Homo sapiens: one gene and its partner. The protein of the gene in region 2 interacts with the protein of the main gene of each other region in a biochemical or structural test. Each region holds a gene or a part of one and is shown on either strand. Other genes may lie near its edges.

Region 1 (7,176 bases), on a different chromosome or scaffold from region 2:
GGCTAATTTTTGTATTTTTAGTAGCGACAGGGTTTCACCATGTTGGCCAGGCTGGTCTCGAACTCCAGACCTCAGGTGATCTGCCCACCTCAGCCTCCCAAAGTGCTGGGATTACAGGTGTGAGCCACTGTGCCCAGCCAGTAACTTTAATATAGTATCTGTTTTCAAAACCCTCTTAGCATTTTTTCAAATTTAGGTATTATGTTTATGTTAACGTAATACCTCAAGTGATCCGTAGTACCTTTGCAGTACTGATGCAGGAGGATGGCTTGAGTCCAGGAGTTAGAGACCAGCCTGGGCAACATGATGAGGCCCCATCTCTACAAAAAAATTTTAAAAATTAGCTGAGTGTGTTAGCAGTTTACCTGTAGTCCTAGCTACTTGGGAAGCTGAGGTGGGAGGATTGATGGAGCCCAGAAGGTAGAGGCTGCAGTGGCTGTGATCATACCACTGCACTCCAGCCTGGATGACAGAGCGAGACACTGTTTCAGGGGGCGAGGGGAAGAAACTTGAGAGTCTTCGTGAGCATACTCTGGCTGGGGAGGCTGCCTGATTTGCAAATCGTTCTTTGTTCAATTAAACTCAAAAAGAAAAAAACCTTAAAATCTTTACAATATCGATAATGGTTGCATGGGAAATTATCTCTAAACTTAGGTTCTTGCTAAGAACCCCTCAGATCATATTGTTTGGTGTGGGGTTTTTCTGCAATTCTCAGAACTGCTTTTTTTTTTTTTTTAAGCTGCACGTCTCTGCATTTAAAATGTCTCATGTTCCTTTTTTTGGTATTAATTTCTTTATGACTATGAGGAGAAAAATTAGAAATTATTCATTCTGTGTTTAATACTTAGAACAATACTAAGATGTATATAGAAAAGGTTGTATCTCTCCCACAACCTGCTAACTCTCAAATCCTACTCTTCTGAGGTTATCAAGGTTAAAAGCTTTTGACACTTTGCTTCATGCTCATACTAATTTTTTTAGTGGACCTTATATTTTACAACAGTTCTAGGTTTACAGCAAAATTGAGCAGAAGGTACAGAGATTTTCCATATATCCCCTGCCTCCACACAAGCATAGTGCCTTCACCTTTTAAAACATCCCCCACCAGAGTGGTACATTTCTAACAATTTTATTTCCTTCCCTTTCCCCCGCTAAATATAGGATGCATTTTTGTGGAGAAAAGTTTTGTAATCAATAATCTTTTCATTCTCCTCTTTAATATGAAGGATGTTTCTAATTTTTTTAGCTGTAATCATTCTTTGACAAATATTCTTATATATAAATCTTAGTAAACATGTTTATTGATTTCTTCAAGGAAAATTCTTAGAAGGAGCCATACTGGCTCAAGGATTATGCACATTTAAAAAACACTGATAATTGTCAGTTTACATCTACCTGAATGGCTAGTTCTCTGTGTTCAAGTCAATACTAGGTAGTCTTGGTTTTCTTTCTAATCTTAGCCAGTTTGTTAGGTGAAAAATGCTGTCTCGTTGCTTTAAATTGTATTTCTTTGATTAACAATGAAATGAGGTTGGATTTTTTTTTTAGTTTACAGTACATTATTTATTTATTTATTTTTTGTGATGGAGTCTCACTCTTGTCTCCCAGGCTGGAGTGCAGAGTGCAGTGGCGTGATCTTGGCTCACCACAACCTCCACCTTCCAGGTTCCTCAGCTTCCCAAGTAGCTAGGATTATAGGTGCACACCACCATGCCCGGCTAATTTTTGTATTTTTAGTGGAGACGGGGTTTCACCATGTTGGTCAGGCTGGTTTCGAACTCCTGACCTCGGGTGATCCACCTGCTTCGGCCACCCAAAGTGCTGGGATTACAGGCATGAGCTATTGCGCTTGGCCTATTTTTTATAATTTTTAAAAAAATCATTAGCTGGGCATGGTGGCATGTGCTTGTCGTCCTAGTTACTTGGAAGGCTGAGGAGGAAGATCAATTGAGCCCGGGAGTTTCAGGCTGCAGTGAGCTGTGGTTGCACCACTGCATTCCAGTCTGGGCAACAAAGCAAGACCCGATCCCTGAAAAATAGTGTCTTTTTTTTTTTTAAGACAGAGAGACAGTATTGCTCTCCTCTCAGGCTGGAGTACAGTGGCGGTGATCTCAGCTCACTGCAACCTCCACCTCCCGGGTTCAAGCTAGTCTTGTGCCTCAGCCATCCGAGTAGTTGGGATTACAGGCGTGCACCACCATGTGTGGCTAATTTTTGTATTTTTAGTAGAGTCAGGGTTTCACCACTTTGGCCAGTCTGTTGTCGAACTTCTGGCCTCAAGAAATTGACCCGCCTCAGCCTCCCAAAGTGCTGGGATTATGGGCTTGGGCCACCGTGCGAGGCCAATAAAATATCCTTTAACTGTTTTCTATTAGGGTGTTCTCTTTTTACCCTTCTTCTTTGTTTGTAAGAATTCTTGACAAAATTTGTTTGTCTTTTACTTTTTATGTTACTTCTGGCATTCCAAATAGTCATACTTGGGTTTTTCCTTGGCTTGTATATTGAGAGTTCCTCTATGCTTAAATTTGAGAAACATTTACTTTAACTTTTTTTTTTTTTTTTTTTTTTGAGGCAGCGTCTTACTTTGTTGCCCAGGCTGGAGTACAGTGGCACAATTATGCCTCACTGCAGCTTCAACCTGCCAGGCTTAAGCAATCCTCCCACTTCAGCTTCCTGAGCTGGGACTAGAGGCACGTACCTCTATTTCTTATTTATTTTATTTATTTATTTATTTTTTGGAGAGCTGGGGTCTTGCCATGTTGCCCAGGCTGGTCTTGAACTCCTAGACTCAAGCAATGCACCCACCTCAGCCTCCTAAAGTGCTGGGATTAGGCATGAACCACCACTCCTGGCCCCCCACCCCCTTTTTTGAGATGGAGTCTCACTCTTTTGTCAGGCTGGAATGCAGTGGCACAATCTTGGCTCACTGCAGCCTCTGCCTCCCGGTTTCAAATGATTCTTCTGCCCCAGCCCCCTGAGTAGCTGGGACTACAGGTGTGTGCCACTATGTGCAGCTAATTTTTGTATTTTTAGTAGAGACGGGGTTTGACCATGTCGGCCAGGGTGGTCTCAATCTCTTGACCTCCCAAAGTGCAGGGATTACAGGCGTGCGGCACCGTGCCTGGCCCCGTCCCTTATTTTTTAATTTTAAAAAATTAGAAGGGCAGGTGTGGTGGCTCATGCCTGCAATCCCAGCACTTTGGGAGGCCGAGGTGGGCAGATCGCTTGAGATCAGGAGTTCAAGGCCAACATGGTAAAACCCTGTCTCTACTAAAAATAACAAAAATTCGCTGGGCGTGGTGGTACATGCCTGTAATCCCAGCTACTCAGGAGGCTGAGGCAGGAGAATCACTTGAACCTGGGAAGCGGAGGTTGCGGCAAGCTGAGTTCATGCCACTGCACTCCAGCCTGAGCGACAGAGTAAGACTCTGTCTCAAAAAAAAATAAGAATTGAGTGATTAACCAATTTCTTCCAGTTCTTTTTATTTAACCATCTGTTCTTTCCACACTGATTTGCAAGAGCCTTTTCATATAATCTTTAAATATATTCTTCTTTAAGGTTTTCTAGTCTATTGACACATCTGTTACACTATTTTAGTAATTGACATTTTAGTTTTATCTTTTTGCTAATTTGTAAACATTATTGTATATTTGGGGAAAGTGTTTTGCCTTTTGTAACTTATGTATTTTTAAATAACAGAACTTGGTACTGTAGAGTAATGTCAGGATTGGAGTCCATATTATACAGTGTTCTGAAATACATTGTAATTATCTCACAGTATTATTTTGGCGACTTCAATTTGCCACGGGACAAGTTTCTAAAGGAACAGATAAAACTGGATGAAGGCTGGGTACCTTTGGAGATAATGATAAAATTCAACAGGTAACAAGCTTTTAAAAATAATCTTTAGGTTTTCTGTTTACAATGAGTGCTACTGCTGAGTCTTATGTTTTTATATGTACTCTTCAGGTTGAACCGTCTAACAACAGACTTTAATGTAATTGTGGAAGCATTGAGCAAATCCAAGGCAGAACTCATGGAAATCAGTGAAGATAAAACTAAAATCAGAAGGTCTCCAAGCAAACCCCTACCTGAAGTGACTGATGAGTATAAAAATGATGTAAAAAACAGATCTGTTTATATTGTAAGTGGGCCTGTAATGCATTTAAATATCTTACATTTATTTAGAAAGTAAAGTACGGAAGAATAAGGGCTCAGGAATCACAGCCTCACTAATTACTGTATGTCCTTTCGTAATATTCTTAACCTAAGTTTCTTTTGTTTTGTTTTGTTTTGAGACAGTCTCATCCTGTTGCTCACGTTGGAGTGCAGTGGTGTGATCATGGCCCACTGCAGTCTTGACCTCCTGGGCTCAAGTGATCCTCCCACCTCAGCCTCCTGAGTAGCTGGGACTACAGGTGCATGCTACCATGCCTGGCAAAAAATTTTTTGTAGAGACGGGTCTTCCTGTGTTGCCCAGGCTGGTGTCAATCTCCTGGGCTCAAGTGATCCAATCACCTTGACCTCCCAAAGTGCTGGGATTACAGGTGTGAGCCACCATGCCTAGTCCTAAGTTTTATCTTCATAAACGTGGATATTTTCTACCTTGTAGAACTGTTGTGAGAATTAAATGAAAAAAAATATATATACCATTGGATGAAATCTTTGACATATTCTAAGCACCTATTGCCTATTAGCTGTTCTTATTTATCAGCAGCTAAACTTGATTGCAGTTTTCTTTAGTGTATTTTTAAATAGTTTTTTATTACGGAAAATTTCAGATACATATATAAATAGATTCAATAATGTACCATCACCAGCTTTAGTAGTTAATAACAGAACATGCAAATCATCTTGTTTTATTTCTGCTTCAACTGAATTATTTTGAAGCAAATACCAGATGAATCACTTTTATTGTACTGGAGAGTAGTGGCTCCTAAACAAGGCTGTTAAGTGATTAACAAAGAGAAATAGAGATAGATAGGTATATCCTGGGTTCATTTCAAGAAAAAATGAATCAAATTCTCTCCAATTGTTTATCTGAGAAGTCATTATTTGTTATTTGTACATTTCTTCCCACTCTTCACAGAAAGGCTTCCCAACTGATGCAACTCTTGATGACATAAAAGAATGGTTAGAAGATAAAGGTCAAGTACTAAATATTCAGATGAGAAGAACATTGCATAAAGCATTTAAGGTATGATAATACAGACTTTTTCTAGTTTTAAAATATATGGGACATAACTTAAAAAAATATTTTCCTTCCTTTTTACAGGGATCAATTTTTGTTGTGTTTGATAGCATTGAATCTGCTAAGAAATTTGTAGAGACCCCTGGCCAGAAGTACAAAGAAACAGACCTGCTAATACTTTTCAAGTAAGTCTTTTTGCTGATGTTTCTCCTGGCCTTTTACTTATATGGACACACACTAGGGTAAGGAGCATGGAAGTAGTATCCCCTGAAAGGCCAATATTCTTAGTATCTTTAGATGACCTTTGAGAAATGCTTGATATTTGTTCAGTGAGAACTATAGTCTTTTGAGACTATAAGAAAAGTGTTCATTAGTACCTTTTCACTGTTAACAATTTTTTTTTCTTTTTCTTTTTTTTTTGAGACAAGTTTCACTCTTGTCACCCAGGCTGGAGTGCAGTGGTGTGATCTTGGCTCCCTGCAACCTCTGCTTCCTGGGTTCAAGCGATTCTCCTGCCTCAGCCTCCTGAGTAGCTGGGACTACAGGCGCGTGCCACCTCGTCCACCTAATTTTTGTATTTTTAGTAGAGATGGAGTTTCACCATGTTGGCCAGGCTGGTCTTGAACTCCTGACTTCAGATCATCCGCCTGCCTTGGCCTCCCAAAGTGTTGGGACTACAGGCGTGAGCCACTGCGCCCAGCCACTGTTAGCCATTATTAAAGGAGGTTATGTTTTAATACTGATTTTGCATCTAAAACTTTTGATCAGGCTGGGTATTAAAATTTGGTCTTTTGTGTGTTTGGAAAATATATCAATGCAGTTTTCATCTTATTTTTCATAGCCTATATGTCTTTTTTTTTTTTTTTTTTTTTTTACAGTACAAAGGATTTGAGATTTGGGTCACATTCTTTGTGAATGTGTGTCTGTCTAAGTGTCTAAAAATGGGGATGAACCAGAGCATTTTCATGATAAAATTAGGTGTAGGGCCATAGTTCCCTACTTTAGAAGACTGTGCATTAGTCTTCTAAATGGTATATACTAAACTTGATTGACTTAGAGATGCACTGTGATGGGTCATAGTATCAGTGTTAAATCCTCAAAAATTATTTAACATGATTTTCATATGTTATTGTTGGATCTTGGGGATTTTAGAATTTTCTCCTTTTGTGGAATTAACACTATAGAAAACTGCAATATTATTTGCATGACTTCTGATACACTTTTTTCCCTATACATGAATGATAAATGGAAATCAACATGAAATTGCTAATGGATAGGGGGTTTCTTTTTGGGGTCATGAAAATGTTCTGAAATTAGTAGTGATGGTTGTACAACTGAATATACTAAAAAACATTCAAGGTACACTTTAAAAGAGTGAATTTTGTGGCACATGGATTTTTTCCTCAGTAAAGCTGTTATATAAAAAAACATGAGAGAGTAAATTCCTTGGCATATTTTGAATTTTTAGTTGATGATTATGTTGATAGTAAGCGTGTGCAACATTCATTGCTGTGCCATGTCTTAAGTTATTCAAAATAATCTGCAGTCTTAACTTTGTTCTCGTGAACTTAGCCTCTGTACTGTGTGTTCTTTAGGGACGATTACTTTGCCAAAAAAAATGAAGAAAGAAAACAAAATAAAGTGGAAGCTAAATTAAGAGCTAAACAGTAAGTATGTTGAACTAATCACGACATAATTTGAATTCCTTAAAGCTCTGACAGAAATATAGCTGGTGAGCTCTGAAATAGTGGCAGTAGACCTTTCTCTTTGCTAGTGAAACACTGAGATCTTAAGCTGCCTTGACAATCTCAGGGCCAAATTGCATTGCAGTCTAGCATTGGACGATCAAAAAAACCTAAGGACTTCTGGCTTTGGTTAAGTAAGTTTAGTGATCATGATTGGTTAACTTTATTAGGACTTAATTTTCTTATATAGTAAATAGAAGTATGTTATAATTATATTTTTATTTGTAGGGAGCAAGAAG
Region 2 (8,058 bases):
CTTTATCCAGGGCAGGAAGTGTGAGACCTTGATGTAGACTCCTGGAGGTGTCCCTTTTTTGTTTCCATAGGAGAGAATACCTTGGGCTACGTCCTTACACACGAGGGGCCCCCCGGAGTCCCCCTGTGAACAGAGAGAGGAAAGACTGAGCTAGTGTTCCCTGGGATGGGTGGTCTCTGTTATGGATTTTGTGTGACATCAGTGCCAGGCAGGCCTTGTCACTCACCTCCCTCAGTCCTGGGTCTCCAGCATGGCCCTGGCTGTGCTTTCTGGCTCTCCCCAGACCAAGCCTTTCTCTGCAATTCTCACGGACACTTTGGTGATAAGTGACTGTCGGATGACAGATCCTTCCCCTCCAGCCACCCCAGTCCACCCAAGGAGTGGACTAAAGACTAGATTCCAGGGGGACACAGGCTGCCCAAGCTCTGGGCTGAGAGCATAAAGATCTGGCCACTGTCATACCCCAGAACTCCCTCAAGTTCCTCTCTCCCTGTGGTCTTTCTGGGTAGAGGCTGGAAACCCAACCTTGAAACCGGTCTGTGTCTTCTTTGGATCCCCCACACAAATCTCAGTGGCTCTGCTGTAATTGCCATGGAAGAGACGTTCACACTGGCAGTCCTTCTGCACTGTCAGCAACACTTCCTGCAGTGTGGTTGCTAAAGTGCTCATTGAGACATAACCCCAGCCAGCCACACTGCACAGCTGCCCTGGCTTCACCTGGGCCTTGCTGCTAGGTAGCCTGAGAGGCCGCACAGCTGTGGTCCACTTGGCCTTTCTCTCCAGCTGGTGGGGAAGAAGCAAGAAAGTCCAGGTCAGGCAATGGCCTTCTGGGCCCCGACACAGTGATGGGGCTGCACAATCTTCCCTCTCCTCTAAGGCACAGGAACTGACCAAGAGGTCAGGATGGAAAGGAGGAAAGGGCCGGCATCCCAGTGGGAGTGGAACCAACTGGACCAAGAAGAGCAAGAGTGGCAGGAGTGTGCCTCACCTGCAGTAGCATGATGTCGTTGGAGAAGTTCTTAGGATTATAGGCTGGATGGGGGATGGGTCTTTTCACAGGGATAAACTGCTGGGTCCGCTCCTGTTCCTTGATATTGTGGGCCCCCAAGGTGACATTTATGGAGCTGCACAGAGAGCAGAGTGAGGATGGGGGTGGAGTCACAGGGGATAGAGCCCAGGAGCAGTGAAGAGCAGATGACAGCTGTGGCAGGGTAGGGCTGCAGCTGAGGGGAAGTTGAAGGGACAGGAGGGCTCCAGGGCTGAGTGACTGTGCCCTCTACTTCACAAAGACATGAAGAGTAGGGCTTCTGGGGGCTCTCTCTTGCCTTCAGGAAATATCATGAAATTGCTCGAGTTTGCATTTTGATCCTTAATGCATGGATTCAACCTTTACTACTGCCTTATTGGGCCAGTGTGTGAAACCATGCCACTTGCTCTGACCTCTGACCCTCTGACCCTCTGACCCTGTCCTATTTCTCAGCCTTTCATCATCTTAGTCCTATTCCCAGGTGGCTGCTCCGATGAGCTTTCATGGGCTTGTGTTACCAGGAACTCTGGAAGCTCCCCTGGGCTGCAGTCCCCAGGAGAAAACAAGGGTCCCTGTAGGGGGAACTCAGGAGGTGAGCTGGTGCTGCTCCTTACCTTCCCTGGCAGTGAGCAGCTGTCAGCACAAAGTCCTTTCTCACTAGGATGCCGCCACACCTCTTCCGACTCTTCTCTTGCAGAAACTGAACAAAGGCCATGTAGGGGCGGGAGTGGGGCTTGGCCTCATGGCCCCCGATGATCTCCTCTGAAAGGAAAGACTGGAAGATAAAGTAGCTGGGGATGGCTGCAGTCAGGAGAGAAGGCTTAGGACGACAGTGATTGAGGGTGAAGTGTTTTGTGTGCTGCAGACAGTGAGGGAGGGGTCCTCCTGAGCTCTGCAGGCAGTACTCCTTGCAGGCAGAGCAAGCTTTTCTGAACTTTAAGTCTCAGAACCTTCTCTCAGAAAGAATGGACAGTGCTTGACTTCTGCATCCTACTGCAGAAACACACATGGAGGAAGAAAGATCTATTTTCACAGTGGTAGAGCCCCAGAGGATCCTGGACAGGACTTCCCAGGCTCCTCCTTTTTAGTGAGTCTCTCTGATTCCTCTGAGCCTCTGCTGTCCTCCTGATTGGTGCCATTTTCTAATGATCTACCCATGAGCTTCTGGAGTTGGATTTTCTAAAATTCTCATGTGCCAGGGCTGAACACATTCTAGGTTCTCAGTAAGTGTTGTTTGGTGCATAAATGAATAGCCTCCAATTAGCCTTTGGCTGAGGTTTAGTGGGGGTAGTGCTGGTGGGATTCAGGACCTCAGGGATGTTAGAGGGGGTTATCACCAGGTCAGTGGAGTAGCTGAGGGCCTGCAAAGGCAGAAGGAAGTGGAGAAATCAACTAAAAATGAATCGCAAAGCCCAGGTGGAGCCAAGGTAATGGGAGAGCTATGGACACAGTCATCTTGCCATCTCTGAGATCAGTTGCACCATGGGCTTCCCTCCTGGCAGGGGTGACTGGGTGGGGGCACTGAATAAGTGGTTCTTAAGCTGAGTCCAGTAACAACTCCTATGACTGCAACTTGGTGTCTGAGCTCCTCTTTCCTGGGTTGGAGTGTAGAGTAATAATTACTTATCTTTTTTAGCTTCACATTCCCTACCAAATGCCTTTCTAAGAACAATCCACACTCCAGGTCATAAAGGAGAGGTCTAGGGAGAGGCTAACACCCATTAAACCTTTTAGGGAACACCCTTCATTTTTCGATCTTTGCTGAGTGTCTATCTAGCCTCAGATTTATAAGTCTGGGTGTGGAATGGGAGGTGGGCTCAGATTGAGGAAAATTCCTGACCAGTGCTCATGGGTACAGGGTATCTTATAAGATGGGTTCAGGCCTCTGGAATAGGGATAGTCACTTACCTGTCCCAGCCCCAGGGGTCAGAAGAAAGGCCAACAGGAGGAGGAATGGCTGCATTTTCTCAGGAAGGCTGCCCAGGTCAGAGCTGTTGGTGTTGACTCCTTCCAGAAACAAATGCTGGAGGGAGATGAAGGAGGGATGGGTACAGTAAACTCAGAGACCTCCTAGACTTGTCCCCTTCTGGTTTTGATGGGTGTCATTATAGAAGGTGGTTTATTAAAATTATCTGGTTTGGTTTAAGTTGACATGGCACTGTCACATTTACACCCCTGCTGCTGAGTAACAAGGTGAAAGCAAGAATAAAGAACAAGGAGGTGGAGCTGTTGAAGCTGTGGCTGCAGCTAGCAGAAAGGCTGGTACTGCAGAAGCTCCTCAGTGACTGAGAACCAAGAATGTCTCCTTTTCTCAGTTCTTGGCTCTTTTTCTACTCAGATAAAATCATGAATAATTATTTAGCAAGCCAGATCCAGGGATATGAGAGACATGGCTCTTGCCCTTGAAGAATTGATGGTTAGCAAGAGTAGACTGAAAATCTGGGGTTAGAGCACAAGATGGTAAGGGCCGTGGTGGGGAAATCTGCCTGTTGGTGTGAGACGGAGGCTGGACTTGCCTTAGCAGTATGCAGAGTTGCACACACCCAACAAATACTGCAAATGGCAACCCATTCCTATCTTACCACTATCTCAGATTCATATTTTTGGGATATTTAGAATCCCCTCTTTAAATATAAATATTCTGTGACAAAGATAACTTTTTTTATTCCACAGTTCTGCACAAAAGTTCTGGACTTGATATTTATTGAACCAAAATGAGTCATCATTGGGTCCACTGAAGTGTAGTGGACTGATTGCTTTATGCTTTGGTTATTTAGCCCTCCTTAAGCTGAGGTGGGGACTGTTCCACTCCATCTATGGTGCTTATGAATGAGGAGGGGATTTCCCTTGAGAAATGCTAGTTGTTGTTGCCAGGTGATGGAAAAATGGATGCTGATCATCCTGATAATAATTGTTCACTAAGGCCGGGCGCGGTGGCTCATGCCTGTAATCCTAGCACTTTGGGAGGCCAAGACGGGTGGATCACGAGGTCAGGAGATCGAGACCATCCTGGTTAACATGGTGAAACCCCATCTCTACTAAAAATACAAAAAATTAGCCGGGCGTGGTGGCGGGCTCCTGTAGTTCCAGCTACTTGGGAGGCGGAGGCAGGAGAATGGCGTCAACCCAGGTGGAGCTTGCAGTGAGCTGAGATCGCGCCACTGCACTCCAGCCTGGGTGACAGAGCGAGACTCCATCTCAAAAACAAACAAACAAACAAACAAAAAACTGTCCACTAAGTATTCTCTCAGTTTCCAGAGAGCCATGTCTCTGATGTCCCTTGGCTCACAGTCATAGGCTGTCCATAAACAAAAATGTGTATATATACATATGTTTGTATATTTATGTATATGAATATATATAAATATATATGTATAGTTAAGTAGGAACATGTAAATGATAAAATTAAACTTACCAAAAATTCTACCACCGGAGATCATTATTAATGCTTAAGCATGTTTCCTTCTACTATTTTTCTAGGTATTTATAAGGTGCTATTCCTGCTATTACTTTAACAGAACTGGGATAGGACTTTAGGTGATAGACTTTTTTGTGATGAATTTTCCAGGTGTTCTTTGAGCTTCTTGTATTTGGATGTCTAGGTATCTAGCAAGGACAGGGGAGTTTTCTTCAATTATTTCCTCAAATAAGGTTTTCAAGCTTTTAGATTTCTCTTCTTCCTCAGGAACACCAATTATTCTTAGGTTTGACTGTTTAACATAATCCCACATTTCTTGGAGGCTTTGTTCATTTTTTAAAAATTATTTTTTCTTAGTCTTTGTTTGATTGGGTTAATTTGAAAGCATTGTCTTTGCGCTCTGAAGTTTTTTCTTCCGCTTGTTCTAGTCTAGTGTTGAAACTTTCCAGTGGATTTTGTATTTCTCTAAGCATGGCTTTCATTTCCAGAAGTTGTGATTATTTTTTCTTTATGATATCTATTTCTCTGGGGAATTTTTCACCCATATCCTATATTTATGTATATATATATTTTTTAATTTTTAAAGTTGTTTTTTCACCTTTCTCTGGTATCTCCTTGAGTAGCTTAATGATCTTCTGGATTGTTTATCTGGCAATTCAGAGATTTCTTCTTGGTTTGGATCCATTGCTGGGGAGCTAGTGTGATCTTTTGGAGGTGATATAGAACTCTGTTTTATCATATTACCAGAATTACCTTTCTAGTTCCTTATCATTTGGGTAGACTATTTCAGTGGAAAGGTCTGGAACTCAAGTCCTGCTGTTCAGATTCTATTATCCCATGGGGTGATCCTTTGATGTGGTGCTCTCCCCCTTCCCCTAGGGATGGGACTTTCTGACCACTGGACTGCATTGGCTGTTACTGCTTTTCTGGGTCTAGCCTCCCAGTGGCGCTACCAGGTTCCAGCTGGTGCTGGGGAATGTCTGCAAAGAGTCCTGTGATGTGATCTCTCTTCAGGTCTCCCAGCCATGGATACCATTACCTGCTCTGGTGGAGGTGGAAGGGGAGTGAAGTAGACTCTGTGAGAGTCCTTGGTTGTAGATATGTGTAGTGTGCTGGGTTTCTTGAATGCTGGTTATGCTAGCAGTGAAGTTTTCATGTGGACACACTCAGGACCTCTGTTTAGCCAGGATGTTGCAGGCATTGGAATTAGGTGTTATCTTCTCCTTCCTGGGTTCAGGGTTATTCTGTCATGAGTTGCTGTAATGGCCTGTGTTGTTTGGCCTCCAGCCAAGAAGTGGTGCTTTCAAGAGAGCACCAGCTGCATTGGTAGTAGAGGGATCTAGGTTTGCCCTAAGTTGGCCAGGGTGAGTATTTTGGTTTCTCAGATGATGGGTGGGGCCTGAAAGCTCCCAAGAGTTTCTATCTTTTGTGTTTGGTTACCAGGGTGAGTAAAGAAATACCATCATGTTGGGGCAGGGTTAGGTGGGTCTGGGCTCAGAGTCTCCTTGGGTGGGGTTTGCTGTGGCCACTGTGCGGGATGTGGGGGTGGTTCTTAGGCCAATGGGGTTATTTTCCAGAGGGGATCTTGGCTACCTCTGTTGTGTCATATAATTCACCAGGGAAGTGGCGGAAAGCTGGTAGCGAGAGGTCTCACCCAGCTCCCACACAGTTGGCAAGGCCAGTCTCACTCCCAAAGTGCCCCACTCAGATCTTGCCCAAGGCTGTGAACTTTCCCACTGAGAAAGCAAGCATGGATTTCAGATATCACCCCTCCCCATCTGCCCACTCCAACGGGAGTGGCTTCTTTGCTTCTGAGTTCATGTGCTCATATTGCCAAAGCTCCCACTCGTCCCCTAGACTCCACTAAAGAAAGTTTGTGTCCAATTGAAACCACTACCAATTTCAGTTGGAAGCTTCCTTCACCTGGTGACCCCTCCCCAATTCCACTGGCTGCCTTCCCTGAGAGATCCTGTGAGATATAGTCAGGAATGGCTTCCCTGGGCTCAAGCTGAAGATTGGAAGTGCCTTGCAGTCTTCTGATACTGATACTTCTACTTTTATATTTTGTGTGACTGCCTACATTTGTTTCAGTTCAAGGTAAGGTTAAATTCTCCCTTGATCTGGATTTTCAGATTCCCCAGTGGGGATGTGTGTTCAGAGGCAGGTTTTTTCCCTCTCACACTTTGGGAACTTACAGTTTTTCACCTGTTTTGCAAAATTTGCAGCAGTGTCCTGCTTCTTTCAAAGGGTGTGTGAATTCCTTTGGTTTTCCTGGTGTGTTCCCGTGGTGGTTCTTGGAACAAAAGAACACAGTATGAGTCTTCACATACTGTTGTGTCCATCTAAGTGGGAGTTGCATGTGGGTTTAAAGAAACCTGACTCATGAAGGACTTCCCATTTTTTGTACTGCCATGATCATCAGTGCATTATTACTGTCTCACACTGTTTCTTCATAGTGTCTCTCATCCTTCAGATCTCACCTTTTACTGGTATTATTATGGATCCTAGTAATTTATTTAAAAAACAGCAAAAGCTTAAACTCTCCTCCTTTGAGTCTCATGGGGTTGGAGTGGAGTTGTTGGTTTGGATCCTTGCCCAGGTAGCTTTCAGATCCAGCCCTCATCTTCCTGCTGCTCTTCTCTGTGACACAGTCTACATCACACAGATTTCTCTGTCTGACAGCTCTGTCTTCTTGGACCAAGCCAATGGGTGGTGCTGAAGAATTAGGGTCTTTTTCCTTCCCACTCTTTCTTCTTAGCTTGCGGACTGTTTCAGGATGACTCCTCTGCTCTCCTCCTGGCTCCAGCTCTCACCTGGCAGGCTAGATATGGTTTCATATTCTGCCAGGTGATCAGGGTCCTGGCAACACTGCTTGCTCCCTCCATGCCTCCAGCTAGGTGTGGTAGTGGCTTCCTGCTATTGCTAATCTCTCGGTTGATTCATTTTACCCTCTTTGGCTCCTGTCATGTAATCAGTTCCCTGGAATAAACTCCTTTTGTTTGCAAATATTTGGAGTGGTTTCTGTCTTCTTGGACCCTGACTAAGACACTCTGGGGTATTAATTTCTTAGTGCTGTTATAACAAAGTATTACAAACTGCTGGCAGCAGGCAACAGAAATTGATTCTTTCACTGTTCTGGAGGCCAGAAGCCTGAAATCAAGGTATCAGCAGAGTTGGTTCTTTCTGGAAGTGTCTGGCAAAGTCTGTCCCATGCTTCTCCTAGCTTCTAGGGGTATCAGCAATCCTTGCCACTGCCTCGGCTTGTAGATGCATTGCTCCAATCTCTGTATCTGTTGCTGGGTGATCTTCCCTGTGTGTCTGTGTCCACATTTACCTGTTTTAAAGTGATGCCAGTCATTTGATTAGGGTCCCTCTTAATCAAGTATGAACTTATTCTAACTTAGTTACATCTGCAAAACCCTGCTTCCAAATGCTGTCACATTCATAGGTGGTGGGTGAACATAAACTTTGGGGGGACACTATTCAACCCAATACAGTTGGATTTTAGTTTGAGTCTTTTGTTCAACAAACAGGCCGAGACAAGGATTTAGTTAGAGGTAATTAATTTTTTTTCTGAGATAATTCCAAGAGACTGGAGCGAGGAAGTAGGAAG

The links.
Region 1: of the proteins of GZMH (region 2) and SSB, one has a biochemical effect on the other in vitro, tested with the Homo sapiens proteins (one study listed by BioGRID).

What each region holds. Positions count from the first base shown.
Region 1 is NC_000002.12:169,801,695-169,808,870, forward strand, and holds part of SSB (lupus La protein), read left to right. Parts: intron 1-3,779; coding exon 3,780-3,883; intron 3,884-3,970; coding exon 3,971-4,145; intron 4,146-5,090; coding exon 5,091-5,198; intron 5,199-5,276; coding exon 5,277-5,377; intron 5,378-6,787; coding exon 6,788-6,859; intron 6,860-7,165; coding exon 7,166-7,176. UniProt on the Homo sapiens protein: Binds to the 3' poly(U) terminus of nascent RNA polymerase III transcripts, protecting them from exonuclease digestion and facilitating their folding and maturation.
Region 2 is NC_000014.9:24,606,624-24,614,681, forward strand, and holds the start of GZMH (granzyme H isoform 1 preproprotein), read right to left. Parts: upstream 3,063-8,058; 5' UTR 2,991-3,062; coding exon 2,936-2,990; intron 1,790-2,935; coding exon 1,642-1,789; intron 1,125-1,641; coding exon 989-1,124; intron 784-988; coding exon 526-783; intron 124-525; coding exon 1-123. UniProt on the Homo sapiens protein: Cytotoxic chymotrypsin-like serine protease with preference for bulky and aromatic residues at the P1 position and acidic residues at the P3' and P4' sites. Probably necessary for target cell lysis in cell-mediated immune responses.